Linked DNA regions of Homo sapiens: regions 2, 3 and 4 are each linked to region 1. The links come from fine-mapping of genetic effects on gene expression. A gene starts in region 1. Each other region holds a variant in brackets. All regions are shown on one strand. Distances are between the middles of the regions.

Region 1 (5,194 bases):
CTCTTACAATCTCCTTTTACAGGTGACAAAAATGAGGCTTACAGGTTAGGCCACTAGATTATACAAGTCAGTCAGCGCAGGGGTTTTGATTCAGTTCCTGTCTGCTGCTTTTAGGAGCTCCAGTTAGTTGAAACTGGGGAATGACCCAATTGTACCTTCTCTTTTCAGCATTCATTTTGTGCTAAATATTGCGCACATCATTGTATGTAATCTCCGTAACTCCAAGTTATTCTCACTCTGCAGATGAGTAAACTGGGGAACAGAAACATTCAGCAATATGGCACCCAGCTAGTAAATGTGGAAGCCAGGACTCAAATTCTCACTTTGCAGCCAGATAGCTTGCAAAGACAGTTCTTCAGCCCTCTCCTTGCCCACAGAAATACTAGGGTCAGGACTACTAAAATGTCTTTAATGAGAGCCTTGAATCAAGTAAGCAAAGTAGGTGATGCCCCTGAACGGGCCTAGCTCCTGCACAGTCACAGTCCAGCCATAGGACCCTTGTTCCAGGCAGGGCAGTCGCACATCAGGGTCCTCATCTGAGAACTGAATCAGGGTCCCCTGAGGGTTTAGAACCCTCAAGCATTCTGATAGAAGCTGGTAAGCCCTAGGCAGACCTCCCCGGGCAACAGCATCCCATGTGCCTTTGTCCAGCAGTAGTTGGAAAGAGCCTGAAGAAGCCACAGCCCCCAGGTTCTGAGCATCGGCGTGCATGAAGTGGAGGCTTGAGGCAGGGTGTCCAGGGCATAGAGGTGTTTGGCCTGGGCCACCCTCCAGGAGGCTATTCATGTGGGCCACAGCCACAGGAGAAAAGTCCACCCCCAGCACATCCACTGGGTGTGGAGATTTGGTGTAGAGGCCTGTACATAGGCTGGAAGTCCCACAGCCCACATCCAGCACTCGCAGAGGACTGGCAGCCTGTGCCTCCTGCAGCAATGGCAGTAGGAGCCCCTGGACTTCGTCGTATCCAAAGAACCAGTCGAAGGTGGGGACAGTGCCCAAACGAGGCTGGGCATGCAGCCGATCCCAGAGACAGCGGTCCGCCAGGCAACTATCAGCCAGTGAGCCTGTGGGCACGGTTGGAGGGTGTCACTTGGTCTATGTCGCCACTGCAAAAACGTCGTATATACACACTGGCGTCTTTTTTTTTTTTGAGACAGGGTCTCACTCTGTGACCCAGGGTTGAGTACAGTAGCACAATGATGGCTCACTGAAGCCTCCACCTCAGCCTCCTGAGTAGCTAGGACTATAGGCGCCATCGTGCCCGGTTAATTTTTTTTGTAGACAGGGTCTCGCTATGTTGCCCTAGGTTGGTCTCGAACTCCTGGGCCAAGCGATCTGCCCGCCTCGGCCTGGCAAAGTGTTAGCATTACAGCCGTGAGCCACCACGCACGGCCCACCGTAGGGTTTGAGAATCACAATTTCAGGGACTACACTCCTGACTCACGAGGAACCCACCTTACCCTCCCCACTCTGCCCCCACCTTGCCCTCTCCACTCTGCCCCCACCTCCCTACCCGCAAAGGGGCGGCACGTCCCCATCATCAGGCTCGGCAAGTGGAGCATTCGACGCAGCGCGGCCATCTGGAGATTCGGGTAAGTTCGACCAGAGAAGCTTATGTGAAGCGTCCACCCTACTCCAGCCGGAGAGGCCTGAGGTCCAGGGGAAGATCTGCAAATTCCGCGTAGCGAAAGGCGGCGTACAGCTTCCCCGAACTCTGCAGTCCCGGAAAAAAGAACGCGGACACAGACTATGGTAGGAACGGCCTTTATTGGCTGCAGCGGGAAGTGGAGGAGGGTATACAGCGTCCGCAGACCTGAAATCAAATGAGAAAGTGTGAGCACCCCGATGGAGGAGCCAGCTGGATCTCGGTTGTCCTTCTCCGAGATTCCCGGTGTCCCGGCGTTTGAGGATAGAACCAGCGGATGGGAAGCCGCCAGCACCGAAGACATGACGCCGAGGGGGCCAGAGCCCTTTCCCTCTTCCTCCGTACATTACGGGGAGCGGCACCACAAGCCCGATCCCCGCCAAGAAAAGGAGGGTCCTGAGACCCCGCCCAGAGCCTTCCACCCGGCACCCCCACCACTCCCGGCCGCCCAATCTGGCTACTACAGCTAAAACCACACTTACTAGCTCACCACCCTCCGAAAGGCCTCCCGCACCGCGGAGCTCCTTTATATAGCCCGAGGACCCGCCCCCGAGTTGCGATTGGCCCGCGGAAGGCCGGGGCGGAGCCCCGCGGATCCGGCGCTGAGCGGAAGTACGGACCGTGAACTGGAGTGGAATCGCGACTATGGGAGCTCCGGGGGGAAAGATCAACCGGCCCCGAACGGTGACTGTGTGGGGGCCGCGACTTTGTTTCCTCAAGCGTTCCTGAGCCCTTTTATCTCGCACGAGATGGGATCAGTGAGGGGCCGGGGCTGCCTGGTGGAGGGGCCCCGGGTCGCGGCGAGCCCACTCCATCTGATTCGCATCTTTCTCCCCGGCAGGAGCTGAAGAAGAAGCTGTTCAAACGCCGGCGGGTGTTGAATCGGGAGCGGCGTCTGAGGCACCGGGTGGTCGGGGCTGTGATAGACCAAGGGCTGATCACGCGGCACCACCTCAAGAAGCGGGCGTAAGTACTAGACCCTCTTCCTGTTGGTCGTCCCCACCGAGTCTTCCTTCCTCCCTGCAGAGCTCCGGAGCAGCTTCACCTCTCAGCTCACCTTGTGCACTGACGCTTATGCGGGGAATGTCTGTCGGCTGTTAGTTCCTAAGCTCTGATAGCCTCTCACAATACCTGTAGCAGACAACCTTTCTTTGGGTTTTGGATTCTGTTAAGAATCTCAGGAAAGCCGGGGATGGTGGCTCATACCTGTAATCCCAGCACTTTGGGGGGCTGAGGTGGGCGGATCACCTGAGGTCGGGAGTTCGAGACCAGCCTGACCAACATGGTGAAACCCCGTTTTTGCTAAAAATACAAAAATTAGCCAGGCGTTGTGGCCGGCACCTGTAGTCCCAGCTACACGGGAGGCTGAGGCAGGAGAATTGCTTGAACCTGGGAGGCGGAGGTTGCAGTGAGCCGAGATCACGCCACTGCACTCCAGCCTGGGCCACAGAGTGAGACTCCGTCTCAAAAAAAAAAAAAAAAAAAAAAGAATATCAGGAAATCTGTTGGCTCTCCATTCTCCAAGTAATGTTATACATTCACACAGATTTTTATAAGTAAACTTATTTTTACATACAGAAAAGTGCACACATAGGCGCATAAAACTCGAAGAATTTTCCCAAAGGCACTCATAGGATTTCACTTGTAAGTTTCAAGGCCTCCTGTGTCTTGAGGAAGAGTTCCCATCCCATTAATTACTTTCTGTGTCCTTTTTTTTTTTTTTTTTTTTTTTCCTCTTTTTTGAGACAGAGTCTCCCTCTGTTGCCCAGGCTGGAGTGAAGTGGCATGATCTCGGCTCACTGCAACCCCTGCCTCCTGGGTTTAAGCTATTCTCTTGCCTCAGCCTCCCGAGTAGCTGGGATTACAGGTGCTCCCCACTGCACCCGGCTAATTTTTGTATTTTTAGTAGAGACGGGGTTTCACCATGTTGGCCAGGCTGGTCTTGAACTCCTGACCTCAGGTGATCCGCCCACCTCAGCCTCCCAAAGTGTTGGGATTACAGGCATAAGCCACCGCCCCCGATCTATGTCCTTTCATTAGCTTCTTCAATGTAAATATTTAGGGTTTCTATTACTATTTATATTATATTTATTTAATACTTTTCCTTTTTTTTTTTTTTTTGAGACGGAGTCTCGCTTTGTCGCCCAGGCTGGAGTGCAGTGGCGCGATCTCGGCTCACTGCAAGCTCCGCCTTCTGGGTTCACGCCATTCTCCTGCCGCAGCCTCCCGAGTAGCTGGGACTACAGGCGCCCGCCACTGCGCCCAGCTAATGTTTTGTATTTTTAGTAGAGACAGGGTTTCACCGTGGTCTCGATCTCCTGACCTCGTGATCCAGCCGCCTCGGCCTCCCAAAGTGCTGGGATTACAGGCGTGAGCCACTGCGCCCAGCCTATTTAATACTTTTTCTATAGCCAGAACTATTTGTGTGACCTCAGTTGGTTCAGGTTAACCTAGCTCTCTTTATTTCCACTTACCCATCAGGTCCAGTGCACGTGCCAACATTACACTGTCAGGGAAGAAGCGCAGAAAACTCCTCCAGCAGATCCGGCTTGCCCAGAAAGAGAAGACAGCCATGGAAGGTGAGGCTGGGACAGAGGTGGGTGAGGGGAATCCTGGATTTATTTGGGATAATACTTCCTTCTTCCCTTTACTCAGTGGAAGCCCCTTCAAAGCCAGCCAGGACTAGTGAACCACAGCTCAAAAGGCAAAAGAAGACAAAAGCCCCCCAGGATGTAGAAATGAAGGACCTTGAAGATGAGAGCTAAACCTCTTCCACTAGAAGATTCTCAACTGGAGCCAGCCTTCAGACTCAGTGGTTGTTTCAGAGGACTTTGACAAAAGCAAGGCCCCTTTTCACTCTCCAGATTTCCTCCTACCTAATGGCCTACTGACCTCCCCTAGAGGGATGTCTTTGGGAGGGAAGAAGGTACAGAAGAAAGATTGGAGAAGGGCCTCTCTAGCAGTCAACTCCATTTGTAATAAAGCCCTAGCACTCTGAGATGTGTGTGATTAAATGTAGGAATGGGGATGGGTCATGAAAAGATTGGGGAGTATGGAAACAAGACAGTGAGGAAGCAGTACCCACAGCTTCCTTGTGCAAATGCAACAAGATGCCAGCCTCTGCCCTCAAGAGTGGTGGTGCCTGGCCGGGTGCAGTGGCTCACGCCTCTAATGCCAGCACTTTGGGAGGCCGAGGCAGGTGGATCACCTGAGGTCACAAGTTCGAGACCAGCCTGGCTAACCCCGTTTCTACTAAAAATACAAAAAATTAGCCGGGCGTGGTGGTGCACGCCTGTAATCCCAGCTACTTGGAGGCTGAGGCAGGAGAATCGCTTGAACCCGGGAGGCGGAGATTGCCTACCGGGGTATTGCTTGAGGCCAGGAACTCAAGGCTGTAGTGTGCTGTGATCTCATCTGTCTCCTTAGTGAGTGATACTCTAACTTTCCATTTATGACAAAGATACAGATTATTCGAGAAGTTGAAGTTACAGTGAGCCAAGATTGTCCCACTGCACTCCAGCCTGGGCAACAGAGTGAGCCATTGTCTCG
Region 2 (5,194 bases), 890 kb before region 1:
AAATGTCTTCGATTTTATGGGCCAGGTGTTCTCTGTCTTATTACCCTGCTGCCGTAGTTTGCAGCACAAAAGCAGCCACAGACAATATATAAATGAACAGGCGAGACTGTCTTCCAATAAGTGTATTATTTATTTTTTACAAAAATAGTTCACAGGTTGGATTTGACCCATGGGCCATAGTTGGCCAACTTTTGGATACAGGGTCTCACAAACTTTTTTTTTTTTGATACAGAGTCTCACTCTGTCACCCAGACTGCAGTATATCATGTGGAGTTCGATCATGGCTCACTGCAGCCTCGACCTCCTGGGCTCAAGCAATCCTCCCACCTCAGTCTCCTGAGTGGCTGGGACTACAGGAATGTGCCACTATGCCTGGCTAATTTTTGGATTTTTCTGTAGAGATGAGGTTTTGCCATGTTGTCCAGGCTGGTCTTGAACTCCTGGGCTCAAGCAATCCCCTTGACTCGGCCTCCCTTGGGATTACAGGTGTGAGCCACCACACTCAGTCCAAGATAACTTAAAAAACCACATATCCCCTCATACATTCTTAGATGACATCAAACACTTTAAAAAATCATAAATGTAAAAAATTTGTAAAGGAAAGGATGGATTTTGGTATATTGCATATTACATATTTGTGTACATGTTTTCTTCACAATCTTGGAGTTGCACATTTAGCTCATTCAGTTAGGGAAAAATGTCTTCCGTGTAGTTTAAATAGCCGAGCCAGGTGTTATTGTCAAACCAATCAGCCTAATCAGGCTTATTTTGACGTTCAGAAAAAAACTGACAATTTTTCAATTCAAATGAGTGTGTTAATGCACAGTTTCATGATAACCATCTCACTTTAGAATTCTCATTCTAAAGCAGCAGACAGATGAGGCAGGAGCCTCGACGTGGTTGCATATTCCTTTCTGAAGCCCTCTTTGTTTAGGAGCAATGCATTCTTGAATCCTCCCTTACTGGTGACTAGGAGTGTTTACACCTTAGCCTGTGCACCGTAGATTCAGGGTGTGGGAGGATTTAGCTGTTCTGTTGTATGATAGGAGAAGGAGAGGTGATAAAAAGGGGAGATGGGTAAGGAAAATCCACAACTTCTGGAAACAAGTACCCCAGGAGGGAGACCACGCTATTAACTGAGAGACTGCCAGGCCATGCTGGGCACTGGGGCACGGTGGGACATGCTCTGGTACTCAGTGGGAACCCTGCTGACAGGGTCTCCCCTCTGTTGAGCTGAGGAGGGTAGACCTATCTCTGAATGGGAGGGGTGTCGGAAGGGGATTGGGGGTGGGCTGCCTTATCATACATCTAAAAGCTCTTCTATAGGCTGTGCAGAAGCCACAAAATCAATCTGGAAGACCCCAATTTTAGGAAGTGGTTGGCCCTCTGCTATGCTTCTGAGGGGTCAGAACTCAAGCCAATGGGGAAGACTCAGGGGAGGCAGTTTTATTTAGTTTGTCCCTTGTCCTGGAGCCTCTCTTGTTGAACTTCATCTCCTGCAGGTCACCCAATAACTTGCCTTTCTTTCTTCCTCTCCCTCCTTCCTTCTCATCTGACTCTGTCTGTCTGGAAAGACTCTCCTCTGTCTGTCTCTAGCTCTTGCTCTGTAAGAAAGTGGACTTGTGAAAGCTGCAGGACTCTTGGCACACAACAACGCCATCCAGCCCCTGCTCTAATAGATGACCAAGCTCTAGCACTGCTTCTGGCAAAATAAGGCTGTGTCCGTAGGATGACCCTAGCCCCCCGATAAATGCCTGCCTAAGAAAGCTCTCTGCTGCCAGGAGAATTTACCATTTGTTCTAACGAACACCTGACAAAGACCCTGACCCTTTCTTAGACTGTTTATTACAAAGGACTTATAATTATGAATCCTTCCTCTGTCCCTTTGAAACATAGATACAGTCATCTCTTGGTATCCATGGGTGGGGAAGGGATTGATTCCAGGACCCCCTGAGGACACCAAAATCCATGGATGCTGAAGTCCCTTGTATAAAATGGTATGATATTTGCATATAACCTGTGCACATCCTCCCATGTACTTATTTTATTTTCGAGACAGCATCTCACTCTGTCACCCAGGCTGGAGTGCAGAGGTGCTTCACTGAAATGTGATCTCACCTCATTGCAGCCTCAACCTTCCTGGGCTCAGGGGATCCTCCCACCTCAGCCTCCTGAGTAGATGGGACTACAGGCACACGCCACCACACCCGGCTAATTTTTGTATTTCTTTTTTGTAGCAATGGGGTTTCACCATATTGCCCAGACTGGTCTCAATCTTCTGGGCTTAAGTGATCCACCTGCCTTGGCCTCCCAAACTGCTAGGATTACAGGCATGAGCCACTCATAATTACTCATAATACTCAATGCAATGTAAGTAGTTATACTGTATTTTAAAAATGTGTATTATTTTTTATTGTTCTTTAAAAAATTTTTTTTCCAAATGTTTTCAATCCACAATTGATTGGATCCATGGATGTGGAATCCATGGATATGGAGGGCTGACTGTATATCCCTTACAACTCTGAAGTGCCTTCCTCAAGGACCTGAGAGCCAGTCCTTTGAAATATAATCATCAGGAAGGATAGAGCCTCTGTCCCCAATATCCGTGGGAGGTTAGAATCCTAACTTTGATAATTGCCAGCTAGCAGACACAGCTGGCCTCATCGCATATTCAGGGACTAATCCTTTGTAATATTTCACCTCCCTGACTCTATGAGCCCTCGCTCACCCGTCTCCCTACTCCTCCATCTCCCTTTACAATGTCAGTCACCTCTGCACAAATTGGAATGGAGCTCAGCTCTTTCCCTGCTGTCAGTAGAGACTGAATCAAATCTGTTTTTGCTGTCTTAAGTTATGTCTGGCTTTGTTTGTCTTTGACACTTGGAAACAATTCTGAGTGTATTTGAATAAAATGGTTTTTTTTCCCCCTTTCTTTTCCCCAGTCACTCACATGCTTCAAATTCATTGATACTCCACAGAAATCTGCT[A/G]TTTGGTCGCTGGTTTAAATACTTGCTTCCCTGTCTGTGAAGGGCTTAAGTGCCCCTGTTGGGAAGTCAGGCAGATCTGAGCCTTGTCACTTGTCAGCTGTGTGGCTTTGCGTGAGTTCTTTTTTTTTTTTTCTTTTTTTTTTGAGACATAGTCTCACTCTGTCACCAAGGCTGGAGTGCAGTGGCGTGATCTTGGCTCACTGCAACCTCTGCCTCCTGGGTTCAAGCAATTCTCCTGCCTCAGCCTCCCAGGTAGCTGGGATTATAGGCACCCGCCACCATGCCTGGCTAATTTTTTTTAGTGGAGACGGGGGTCTCACCATGTTGGCCAGGCTGGTCTCGAACTCCTGACCTCAAATGATCTGCCCACCTCAGCCTCCCAAAATGCTGGGATTACAGGTGTGAGCCACCGCCCCCCCGGCCTTTGCGTGAGTTCTTTACACTGTCCATCCTCAGTCTTCTCCTCTGGAAAGTAGGAATTAGAATCACTACCTCCTAGAGTTGTCAGGCAGATTAAAAAAAATACTGGGCCTGGAGAGTTCCCAGCACAGTGCTGATATCTAGAAAGCAGCCATTCTCACAGTTTTCACCCCCACCCCCCACCCCGTGTTGTTTCCCCCAGTCGCTCCAGTGCTAGTCTCTCAGAGACAGTGGCCCAGGCAGGGCAGACCCACAGGATCGCAGCAGACTGTCTCGGCTAGCTCCCAAAAGCTGTGCCGAGCACACCAACCCTCGGGGGTCGGCCTCACATCTCTGTGGTTTTTTCAGTTTCTTCTTCCTTTTGCAGAACCATTTCCTGCCAGCACATAAGTGAGACAATCTTACTCATTAAAGCACACCCTCAATGCTCCTCATGGGCCAGCATTTGTTCAGCAGATGAATTATGAGTGCCGACTCTGTGCCTGGCAGTGGGATCAGCACCTGGGACATTGAGACCAATCCAGGCGAGCTCCCTGCCCTCAAGCCTGTGTAGTGAGAGTTCCCAGGGGTGATTTCCCAACTTCATATCTGCCTCAAGGGCCCCAGTCAGCCAGCCCTGACCTAGAACATTGGGGCACTGCCCCTCTGTCCTTGCTGGGGGTTTACTATGCTTTTTGCTTTAATTATTATTGTTATTTTTTAAGACAGGGACTCACTTTGTCACCCAAGCTGGAATGCAGTGGTGCAATCTTGGCTCACTGCAACCTCCGCCTCCTGGGCTCAAGTCATCTTCCTGCCTCAGCCTCCTGAGTAGCTGGGACTACAGGTGTGCACCACCTGGACTCAGCTGTTTTTTTTTTTTTGTATTTTTTTGTAGAGATGGGGGTCTCACCATGTTGCCTAGGCTGGTCTTGAACTCCTGGGCTCAAGCAATCGGCCCATCTCAGCCTCCCAAGGTGTGAGGATTGCAGGTGTGAACCACTGAGCCCGACCTATTATGCTTTTAATACCCACAGGTGCATCTGGTTTTCCTCCTTTGACTCTGTGTATATCACGCCTATGGCTTCATTCTTCCATTCATTCTGTGCCCACCAGACATCTCCACTCCTCTTTCCTGGGTGGCCTGACCTCTTGGCATCCCCTCTCCCAGCCAATATTTGTTCCCTCTGTGATTCAAATGAAGAGGACTGGGCCAGATGAGTCTTTCCTGAGCTGTAGTTTCCTGGTGTATGTATCGTGGTCCCGCCCTGATGCTGAGTGTGCTCTCCCTTCTCTTCTGCTGCAGGTCACTGGTGCAGTCACGACAGTAGGTGTGGCAGCAGGCCTGCTGGCTGCCGCAAGCCTTGTGGGGATCCTGCTGGCCAGAAGCAAGCGGGAAAGGCAATAAATCCAAGAAATTGTCCCAACAACCACCAATTCTTACGGAGGAATATTATTTAGCCAGCAGGAGTGGAGTTTGGTTTACTGATTTTACTGTTTTGTGTTCATGAATCTTTATTTTAATGGAGTTAAAAGCACAGGAAAATGTATTTGGAAATGCAGCTTAGTATGAATTCTATTAAAGACACAATTGGGCTCTGCTATGGACTGAATGCTTGTGTTTCTCTCACACTCCAAATTCATATGTTGAACTCTAACCCACCTGTGGGATGGTATTGGAGGTGGGGTCACTGGGAGGTAATTAGGTTGTGAGGGTAGAGCCTCTAGGATGGATTTAGTGTTCTTATATGAAAAGGAAGAGACTAGACCGGGCACAGTGGCTCATGCCTGTAATCCCAGCACTTTGG
Region 3 (5,194 bases), 200 kb after region 1:
AACAAGGGGGCTGTGCGTGCTTCCTCCTGAGGAGGACCCGGGTCATGGGCAGCCTCCTGGCTCCAAGGGGAGATGACCCAGACCCTGGGGCGAGTGGTCGTAGCAGCCCTTAAGTCACCCAGGGATTGGGCAGATGGGCCTTCCTCTATCTCTCCACCCCTCTCCCTGTCCATCTCACCTCTCCCTTTCTTCATTTGTGCTCTTCTTGCTTTTCTCAGATCCCTTTCTCTCTGCCATTCTCTTTCTCCTAACTGCCAGTGTGCGGGGCTGAGGGGTGCCTGTGGGTACCCGCATCCCGGCCAGTCTCCCACACCCAGGCCTCAGGGCATGTCCGGCTTCACCTGCCATGGGCTGCCTGGCCCCCAAGCAGGCCTTTACTGGGCTCTGAACCTCACCTTCCCCATTTGCAACATGTACAGTGATAGTGCAGGTTGAGCATCCCTAATCCAAAAATCCGAAATCCAAAATGTCCCAAAACCCAAACTTTTTTGAGTGCTGACATGATGCCACAAATGGAAAATTCCACACCTGACCTCATGTGACAGGTCACAGTCAAAATTCTGTTTAATGCACAAAATTATTTAAAACATTGTATAAAATTGGTCAGGCATGGTGGCTTATGCCTGTAATCCCAGCACTTTGGGAGGCTGAGGTGGGCGGATCACCTGAGGTCAGGAGTTCAAGACCAGCCTGGCCAACATGGCGAAACTCCGTCTCTACTAAAAATACAAAAATTAGCCTGGCGTGCCTTCTGCCCACTGGATGCCAGTGGAAGCCCCCCCTAGTTGCGACAACCAAAGCCCCCCTAGTAGCCTCAACATCCTGCAACATACAGGACGGCCTCCCACAGCAAAGAATCCTTTGGCCCAAAATGTCAAAGGCGTCACTATTAAGAAACTCTGCTCCAGGGTAGCTTGGACTGTGTTTGCAGTCAGAAAAAGACTCCTCTGAGGTGTGCCACCTCCCCATGGGCCATCATCCCTGCAGCTGGATGCAGGAGGCTGAAGCTCTTGCCTGACAAAAGTTTCTCCCCAAAGCCTTCTTTCGTATTGGTATAAATAAAATCTGACGTTCTTTCAGCTTGCAGGGGTTGACCCCAGGTGGATGAGGCATCTGAGTTGTCCAGCAGGGACGGTCAGGTCTCGGGGGACTGGAACAGGCCCAGCATCTTGTATTATTTAGTTCTTCTATTGAAGTTCAGCAGCTGGGTAAGCACTGGATTATTGTGAACAATGTGGCTGTTTAGAAGTTTTGGTTTTTTTTTTTCCCTGAAAGAAAAAAGAGGTGACAGATGGAGGTTGGTGGGAGATGATGATCTGGTGGAAGTCATCATTGAAATTGATGTTGCCCACCTGGGATGATCACTGTCGGACTCTTTAATCAGCACCCAAGCCCCACTCTGTGGCTGCATTAATGAGCATCTGGATGATGGGTTTTAAACTCAGCTTTTTGTTTTTTGTTTTTTGTTTTTTGAGACAGTCTCTCACTGTCGCCCAGGCTGGAGTGCAGTGGCGCGATCTCGGCTCACTGCAATCTCCGCCTCCCGGGTTCAAGCGATTCTCCTGTCTCAGCCTCCCGAGTAGCTAGGACTATAGGCGTGTGTCACCACGCCCAGCTAATTTTTTTTTTTTTGAGACAGAGTCTTGCTGTCACCCAGGCTGGAGTGCAGTGGTACAATCTTAGCTCACTGCAACCTCCACCTCCCGGGTTCAAGCGATTCTCTTGCCTCAACCTCCTGAGTAGCTGGGATTACAGGCGCATGCCACCATGCCTGGCTAATTTTTGTATTTTTAGTAGAGACAGAGTTTCACCATGTTGGTCAGGCTGGTCTCAAACTCCTGACCTTGTGATCTGCCCACCTCAGCTTCCCAAAGTGCTGGGATTACAGGCGTGAGCCACTGCACCTGGCCACACACGGCTAATTTTTGTATTTTTAGTAGAGATGGGGTTTCACTATGTTGGCCAGGATGGTCTCGATCTCTTGACTTTGTGATCCGCCCACCTTGGCCTCCCAAAGTGCTGGGATTACGGGCGTGAGCACTGCACGTGGCCAACTTTTGTGGTTTTGATAGCTAGGGGCCAGAGCTCTAGTTATGAGAGTTATTCTCTAAACCCTATGAGGTTTTTCATGTGATTTTTGGTTTATGATTGAGTACACACATTGATGAACTGTGCTTTTTGTTTTTCCTATCTTGTCCACTTTGTGAACTCAATCAGTTTCACAGGTTACTTTCTCTGTTTCTGACACCTCTCCCCCTGGTGGAATTACCTATTGCTATATCTGGTCAAAAGACAAAAATTACACGTAGGCCCCACGTAGTGGCTCACACCTATAATCCCAGCACTTTGGGAGGTTGAGGTGGGCAGATCACGTGAGGCCAGGAGTTCAAGACCAGCCTGGCCAACACAGTGAAACCCCATCTCTACTAAAAATACAAAAAAATTTATCTGGGTGTAGTGGCAAATACCTGTAATTCCAGCTACTAGGGAGGCTGAGGCACGACAATTGCTTGAACCTGGGAGGCGGAGGTTACAGTGAGCTGACATTGCATAACTGCACTCCAGCCTGGGTGATGGAGTGAGACTCTGTCTCGAACAAACAAACAAACAAA[CAAAA/A]ATTACAACATGTTTAGTTAGTTAAAGATCCTAATTGGGGCTGGACGCAGTAGTTCACGCCTGTAATCCCAGCACTTTGGGAGGCTGAGGCAGGTGGATCACTTGAGGACAGGAATTCAAGACCAGCCTGGCCAACATGGTGAAACATCCTCTTTACTAAAAATATAAAAATTAGATGGGTGTGGTGGCATGCACCTGTAGTCCTAGGTACTCTGGAGGCTGAGGCAGTAGGATCTCTTGAATCCAGGAGGCAGAGTTTGCAGTAAGCCAAGACCACACCACTGCACTCCAGCCTGGGCAACAGAACAAGACTCCGACTCAAAAAAAGAAAAAGGAAATCAGGAGATCCCAATTGGGCCGGGCTAAGTGGCTCACACCAAGCTAGGAGGCAGAGGTGGGAGGATCGCTTGAGACCTGCCTGGGCAAAATAGTGAGACCTCGTTCTCCATATACACAAAAAAGAACAAACCAATTGGCTGTTATTTGCAGTTCTAGAATCATGCAGTGTCTTATTCTACAAAATGAAATGAATGTTCCAAGAAGCTGAGCAGAGGAGGTTAACTTTAAAGACAGAAAAGAGCTGAGGAAAGCAGAAACAGAGAACAAAAAGCAGATGGGTCGTCTCAGAGTTACTGTCCTTATAAAGGGTTTAATTTTTTTGTTTGTTTTAAGCTAGAGATGGGGTCTCACTATGTTGCCCAGGCTGGTGTGCAGTGACTCTTCACAGGCACAGTCCCACTACTGATCAGCATGGGAAGTTTGACCTCCTTGTAAAGGCTAAAGCAGAGGACACTTCCTTATCATGCTGGCTGAAACTGGCCTTTTTGAGGATTCGGCTGTTATCCCTCTTTCTCCTGATTTCTCAGAAGGTCAGATGAACAGTTTTGGCTTGGTGGTGTGGAACTTGAGCATGAATAATTCCATTTTGGTTTGATCTGTTGGGCCTAGGGCAGGAGCTCAGTCCAAACCAATGGCCTCCTATAATTTTATTTAGCAACCTGTACACACATGCCCATACATTATGCACCCCAACCCTAGCTCTTACTGTAGTCTGTCTCTGTGAATAAAATCCCCATATATATATATATTTTTTTTTTTTTTCTTTTTTTTGGGAGACAGAGTCTCGCTTTGTCACCCAGGCTGGAGTGCAATGGGGCCATCTCAGCTCACTGCAACCTCCACCTCCCAGGTTCAAGCGATTCTCCTGCCTCAACCTCCCAAGTAGCTAGGACTACAGGCGCGTGCCATCACACCTGGCTAAGTTTTTGTATTTTAGTAGAGACGGAGTCTTGCCATGTTGCCTAGGCAGTCTCAAACTCCTGACCTCAAGTGATAACGCCCATTTCGGCCTCCCAAAGTGCTAGGATTACAGGCATGAGCCACTGTGCCCAGCCAAATCACCATGTAATTAATATAACTAATATCATCATCCCTCAATGGAAGAAGATTCTAGAGGACAGGGACCTTGTGTTGTTTACTCATCTTTGAGCCCTTGACCCCGGCACTGTGTCTGACCTGAGATAAGGCTTCAGGAAGTACTTTGTGAGCTGAACTGAACTTCAAAGAAGTGAATGATATGCAGCCATTTGTCTGAGAAAATGACATTTTGGGCCACTGAATATATACTGAAGAGATGTGTTGCTGAAAGTTTTAGTAGGGTGTTGGGAGTTGCCTGAGAGTGTCCCTCTCTTTTTTCCAAACCAATCACAGCTAAGATGATTTCCTTGGTGTCAAAAGGCTTGACTGTTTCAAGAGGCATTTTGTTGTTGTTGTTTGAGACGGAGTCTCACTCTGTTGCCCAGGCTGGAGGGCAGTGGTGTGATCTTGGCTCACTGCAACCTCCGCCTCCCGGGTTCAAGCAATTCTCCTGCCTCAGTCTCCCGAGTAGCGGGAATTACAGGCGCGCGCTACCATGCCCGGCTAATGTTTGTATTTTCAGTAGAGATGAGATTTCCCCATGTTGACCAGGCTGGTCTCAAACTCCTGACCTCAGGTGATCCGTCTGCCTCGGCCTCCCAAAGTGCTGGGATTACAGGCGTGAGCCACTGCGCCAAGCCTCAAGAGGGATTTTTGGAATGCTAGGCGAGGTAGAGACTACAGACACCAAGAATTTAAGGCATTTATAGGGTATACTTTCTAATGTGATCACTGCAAAAGTTTGAATTGTAGAATTTGTTTTCTTTTAAAGAAGTACAATTATATTACTTTCAAGGATATACTATTTTTCTAAGTTTTTTTTTTTTTTTTTAAGACAGGATCTCACTTTGTCACCCACACTGGAGTGCAGCGTCATGAACATGGTTTACTATAGCCTTTGCCTCTCTGCCTCCTGGGCTCAAGTGATCCTCCCACCTCAGCCCCTCAAGTAGCTGGGACTACAGGCATGCGCCTCCAGGCCTGGCTAAGTTTTGGATATAATTTAAATGTATTGAAATAAGCTGCAAGGAATGATCTAGGCTTTGCATAACCAAGTAAACCAGGTCTTTTAAAAGAGATACTTAGGGATCATAATGAGTATACAAATAATTAACAGGTATGTTGTTTATAAACAGTTTATTATTCTACATAGTTAAAATGC
Region 4 (5,000 bases), 31 kb after region 1:
GAGACAGGGTTTCACTATGTTGACCAGGCTGGTCTCAAACTCCTGACCTCATGATCCACCTGCCTCGGCCTCCGAAAGTGCTGAGATTACAGGAATGAGCCACCATGCCTGGCCAAAAATATATTTTTTAATTTTCTTCTAACACTTTTGCTTTCATTTATTTACTTATTTTGAGATCGGGTTATGAGACTGGCTAATTTTTGTATTTTTGGTAGAGATGGGTTTTTGCCATGTTGCCCAGTCTGGTCTTGAACACCAGGGCTCAAGCGATCCACCTGCCTCGGCCTCCCAAAGTGCTGGGATTACAATAGTGGGCCACCGAGCCCATCCTAAAGCTTTTACTTTTAAATTTTAAGCAGGCTGGGTGTGATGGCTCATACCTGTAATCCCAGCACTTCGAGAGGCCAAGGCGGACAGATCACTTGAGGTCAGGAGTACAAGACCAGCCTGGTCAACATGGTGAAACCCCGTCTCTACTGAAAATACAAAACTTAGCCGGGCGTGGTGGTGGGCGCCTGTAATTCCAGCTACTCGGGTGCCTGATGCACAAGAATCACTTGAAACTGGGAGGCAGAGGTTGCAATGAGCCGAGATTGTGCCACTGCACTCCAGTCTGGGTGATAGAGTGAGACTATCTTAAGAAAAAAAAATTTTTTAAGTCATAATCTTTCTGCAGTTGATACTTGTATCTGGTATTAGATAGAAATATGATATCAAGGGGTTGGGCGTGGTAGCTCATGCCTGTAATCCCAGCACTTTGGGAGGCCGAGGCAAGTGGATCACTTGAGGTCAGGAGTTTGAGATTAGCCTGGCCAACATGGCGAAAAATCATATCTCCTAAAAATACAAAAAAAAATTAGCCGGGTGTGGTGGCACCTGCCTGTAATATCAGTTACTAGGGAGGCTGAGTCAGGAGAATCACTTGAACCTGGAAGGTGGAGGTTGCAGTGAGCCAAGGTTGTGCCACTGTGCTCCAGCCTGGGCAACAGAGCGAGACTCCATCTCAAAAAAAAAAAAAAGAAGTACATCATTTTTCTTCATATTTGGAAAATCATTTTTTTTCCTATATGGAAAATGTTTTTTCAGTTCCATTTTTGAATAGTTCTCCTTTCCTCTCTCATCTGCTATGCCACCTCTTAGTATTTAGTACATTTAAAAAAGTAATAAGTGGCCAGGCACAGTGGCTCACGCCTGTAATCCCAGCACTTTGCGAGGCCGAGGTGGGTGGATCACCTGAGGTCAGGAGTTTGAGACCAGCCTCAACATGAAGAAACCCCATCTCTACTAAAAATACAAAATTAGCCAGGTGTGGTGGTGCATGCCTGTAATCCCAGCTATTTGGAGGCTGAGGCAGGAGAATTGCTTGAACCTGGGAGACGGAGGTTGCGGTGAGCCGAGATTGCGCCATTGCACTCCAGCCTGGGCAACAAGAGTGAAACTCCGTCTCAAAAAAAAAAAAGAAAAAAGTAATAAATATGCTTGGGTCTGTTTCTGGGCCCTTTGGTTCTGTTTATTAACTTGTCTATCCCTGCTCTGTTACCACACTGCCTATTTCTCTTAACAGGTAGATTTCCCCCGGTCTTCTAAAGTGTCATTACTCCTCTTGGCCCTTTGTACTTCCTTATATTTCTTTTGATATGTTTCCCAGGCTTTCTGTCTCTGGTCGTGATGAGAACAGTGTGGAGTTAACCATGGCTGAGGGACCCTACAAGATCATCTTGACAGCACGGCCATTCCGCCTTGACCTACTAGAGGACCGAAGTCTTTTGCTTAGTGTCAATGCCCGAGGACTCTTGGAGTTTGAGCATCAGAGGGCCCCTAGGGTCTCGTGAGTACAGGGGTTGGGACTGCAGGGAACCTAGTGTGAAAGAGCATAGGGGTGTTGTGAGGTCTGGCACGGGGAGGAGACGGTGGTGGGACAGCCAGGTAGGGCCTGGGGGCTGGGAGAAGCTCTCTGTCAGGGAGGGTAGGAACCAGACCCGGGTGCGGTTTTTTCCATTTCCTGTACAGACCAGGAGGCAGTCACTTTTGTCCCTGAGCTGTACCCTGGGCATCTCTGGGAGGCCTGCCTGGGTCTGTGTCTCCTTCTTCCCCTTCTCACATCATCACATTTCCCAGATTTATTTTCTTCGTTTTTATTTATTTATTTTTTTTGGTTTCTTTTTCCCCCCATCTCTGGAAGTTTGTCGACTGAAACTCACTTTTATGTTTCTGTTTTTGTGTTGGTTTTGTGCCTCTTTTTCCCCTTCCCTACCCATCTCCTCCTGCCCCAGTTTCTCGGATAAGGTTAATCTCACGCTTGGTAGCATATGGGATAAGATCAAGAACCTTTTCTCTAGGTAAATCCATGGCCACCGGTACTGTATCTGTTCCTCTGCCCTTACCCATTCCTCACTCTAGCCTT[T/C]GGGGGGAGGTGCCCCAGACCCTTCCAGCCTTTCACTCACCCCACTTTCCCCTGCTGTGTGATGTCTGGTCCTGTTACCTGTTACCCTGGCTGGGAGCCCCCAGAAGAAGGAAGGTGAGATACTGAAAGTCAGGTCCTTCGGGAATGTAGGGAGCTTATTGCTTTGCCAGGGGATGGAGAGATGCTGCCTATTGCTGGGGTTCCTGACTCTCAGCTGAGGGGCACCTGAGGTTCTGGGCAGAGCTACTTGCCCTTGAAAGCATTTTTTGGCAGAATCTCTTGAAGTCCCTATGTATGTCTGTAGAGGCTTGGTATAGTATGACCCACATGCCTTTGCAAAGCCATTGTGTCAGGCCAGGAGGCTGAGGCCCAGGGAGAGCACTTGGGGCCAGAATCTCTCAGTAGAGGCAACAGAGCCAGGATTGGCATTCATAACCCAGGCCCCTGAATCATTCTGCCTTTCTCTTCTGGGATGTTGACAGAGGCTGGTGTTCAGGCCTGTGCCTCCTGGTGGCACTTATTCCTCATTTTCCTTTCTCATTTCTCTCCCCATCCTTTGCAAACTTATCTGCTCATTGTGGGTTCCCTCTCCAAGCTTTAACATTTAGTCCCTTCCTCCAATGCCTTCGTTCCTTTGGACCCTTGGCTCTCTATTCCCCAACCCCTCCTTCCACTAGCCCCTCGTCCCTGCCCCCTCTGGATTGGAGCAGACAGCTCTCCTACCTTCCAGGCAAGGATCAAAAGACCCAGCTGAGGGCGATGGGGCCCAGCCTGAGGAAACACCCAGGGATGGCGACAAGGCAAGTTGGAGCGGGTGGGTGGTTGGAGGATAGGGCTGGCTGGGAGGGTGGAGGGGAGAGGCCCATGAGAAACTTGAACTTAGTCTCCCCATCAGGGATGGGATTTAGTTGATGGGAGCGGGGAAAGAGAGAACTGGTATGATTGGAGAGTGGTCCTCTTTTCTTCTTAACAGCCAGAGGAGACTCAGGGGAAGGCAGAGAAAGATGAGCCAGGAGCCTGGGAGGAGACATTCAAAACTCACTCTGACAGCAAGCCGTATGGTGAGGGGCTCGGGTTCCTTGGGCTGGGGTGCAGGGCTCCTTTCCAAGCAGAAGCTCTGAAGCTTGTTTGTTTTTCTTCCAGGCCCCATGTCTGTGGGTTTGGACTTCTCTCTGCCAGGCATGGAGCATGTCTATGGGATCCCTGAGCATGCAGACAACCTGAGGCTGAAGGTCACTGAGTGAGTCCTATGGTGACATCAGGAAGATGGAGGTGGGCAGGAAGGAGTCAGGCCTTTAGGGAGATGGGTGTGCATATTGGATACTCTAGGCAAGCATGGGTCATTTCTTGTGTCCAGAATCACCTTTGGTGATAGAAAATTTTTTGAGAAAGGACAAGAGGAGCCTTTGCTTATCTCTCACCTGTGTCTGTGGAGTGGTGTTAGCATATAACGCAGCCTGGGGCCAGTTAGCAGCCCAAGTCTGTCTGTTTGCCTGCAGGGGTGGGGAGCCATATCGCCTCTACAATTTGGATGTGTTCCAGTATGAGCTGTACAACCCAATGGCCTTGTATGGGTCTGTGCCTGTGCTCCTGGCACACAACCCTCATCGCGACTTGGGCATCTTCTGGCTCAATGCTGCAGAGACCTGGGTTGATATATCTTCCAACACTGCCGGGAAGGTGAGAGCACAGGCACGGGGAAAAAGGAGGGAGTGAAGCTTCCAGGCCTTGAGGCAAATAGGTATACTAGGGGCATTAGCTATTTGGGGACTGGGTTTAAGAAGGGGCTGTGGGCCTGGTGGGCAGCATTTGAGTTCCCTAATCACTCCCAGGTGACACGCTCACTCACATTCTTAGGGAAGGCATTGCCTATTCTGGGCTGACGGAATGCACTTATTATCAGTGTGTTACGTGCTAGGTACTCTTCTGGGTGCTGGGGATATAGTGTTAACTGAGGTTGAAAAGGTTCTGGGCTGGGTGTGGTGGCTCATGCCTGTAATCCCAGCACTTTGGGAGGCTGAGGTGGGCGGATCACCTGAGGTCAGAAGTTGGAGACCAGCCTGGCCAACATGGCGAAACCTCATCTCTACTAGAAAAACAAAAATTAGCAGGGTGTGGCGGCGGACTCCTGTAATCCCAGCTATTCGGGAGGCTAAGGCAGGTTAATTGCATGAATCTGGTTGGTGGAGGTTGCAGTGAGCGGAGATTTCACCACTGCACTCCAGCCTGGGTGACAGAGTGAGACTCTGTTTCAGAAAAAAAAAAAAGAAAGGTTCTGACTCACAGGGAGGAAGACACGTTAAACACATAACAAAGGAGGCAAGATGGGGCCGGGCATGATAGCTCATGTCTGTAATCCCAGCACTTGGGGAGGCTGAGGCAAGAGGATCGCTTGAGGCCAGGAGTTCGAGACCAGCCTGGGCAACATGGCGAGACCCCATCTCTATAAAAACGTTTGAAAAATAAAAATAATAAGCAAGATGATGCCGGGTGCAGTGGCTCCCACCTCTAATCCCAGCACTTTGGGAGGGCGAGGTGGACAGATCACAAGGTCAAGAGATCGAGACCATCCTGGCCAACATTGTGAAACCCTGTT

Alleles and levels. Alleles are on the strand shown, and positions count from the first base shown. SD is a standard deviation of normalised expression in the study named. Not every link is listed here.
As copies of A replace G in region 2, the expression in gastroesophageal junction of the gene that starts at base 2,148 in region 1 goes up (large effect, 0.90 SD a copy in GTEx).
In carriers of allele CAAAA in region 3, the expression in lung of the gene that starts at base 2,148 in region 1 tends to be higher than with A alone (large effect, 0.85 SD a copy in GTEx).

What was found. PIP is the estimated chance that this variant, and not a neighbour inherited with it, causes the effect.
Region 2: its variant is the best candidate, but not a certain one, in a credible set for the expression of CSKMT in gastroesophageal junction (GTEx, PIP 0.89).
Region 3: its variant is the best candidate, but not a certain one, in a credible set for the expression of CSKMT in lung (GTEx, PIP 0.72).
Region 4: its variant is the best candidate, but not a certain one, in a credible set for the expression of CSKMT in whole blood (TOPMed, PIP 0.76).

The regions. Positions count from the first base shown.
Region 1 is chr11:62,662,266-62,667,459 of GRCh38, reverse strand. It overlaps CSKMT (citrate synthase lysine methyltransferase), which reads right to left and starts at 2,148. Exons shown (of 3, transcript NM_001043229.2): 1 at 2,128-2,148; 2 at 1,514-1,813; 3 at 1-1,064. The coding sequence starts at 1,580. The coding sequence ends at 409. LBHD1 (LBH domain containing 1) reads left to right here. Exons shown (of 7, transcript NM_024099.5): 5 at 2,487-2,611; 6 at 4,127-4,224; 7 at 4,301-4,643. The coding sequence ends at 4,331. C11orf98 (chromosome 11 open reading frame 98) reads left to right here and starts at 2,250. Exons shown (of 4, transcript NM_001286086.2): 1 at 2,250-2,329; 2 at 2,487-2,611; 3 at 4,127-4,224; 4 at 4,301-4,643. The coding sequence starts at 2,291. The coding sequence ends at 4,410. SNORA57 (small nucleolar RNA, H/ACA box 57) reads right to left here and starts at 2,038; the gene lies at 1,890-2,038. RefSeq lists enhancers at 801-900, 921-970, 1,021-1,130, 1,801-2,030.
Region 2 is chr11:63,552,564-63,557,757 of GRCh38, reverse strand. It overlaps PLAAT2 (phospholipase A and acyltransferase 2), which reads left to right. Exons shown (of 4, transcript NM_017878.2): 4 at 4,693-4,988. The coding sequence ends at 4,794. Among named protein-coding and RNA genes, the nearest start is that of PLAAT2, 8.2 kb to the left of the region's middle. RefSeq lists an enhancer at 3,664-3,783. The variant A/G (reference allele first, on the strand shown) is at 2,988.
Region 3 is chr11:62,466,882-62,472,075 of GRCh38, reverse strand. It overlaps a transcript of AHNAK not described here. Among named protein-coding and RNA genes, the nearest start is that of SCGB1A1, 50 kb to the right of the region's middle. The variant CAAAA/A (reference allele first, on the strand shown) is at 2,613.
Region 4 is chr11:62,631,649-62,636,648 of GRCh38, reverse strand. GANAB (glucosidase II alpha subunit) reads left to right here. Exons shown (of 24, transcript NM_198334.3): 5 at 1,649-1,828; 6 at 3,135-3,204; 7 at 3,378-3,465; 8 at 3,548-3,644; 9 at 3,904-4,084. Among named protein-coding and RNA genes, the nearest start is that of B3GAT3, 12 kb to the right of the region's middle. The variant T/C (reference allele first, on the strand shown) is at 2,405.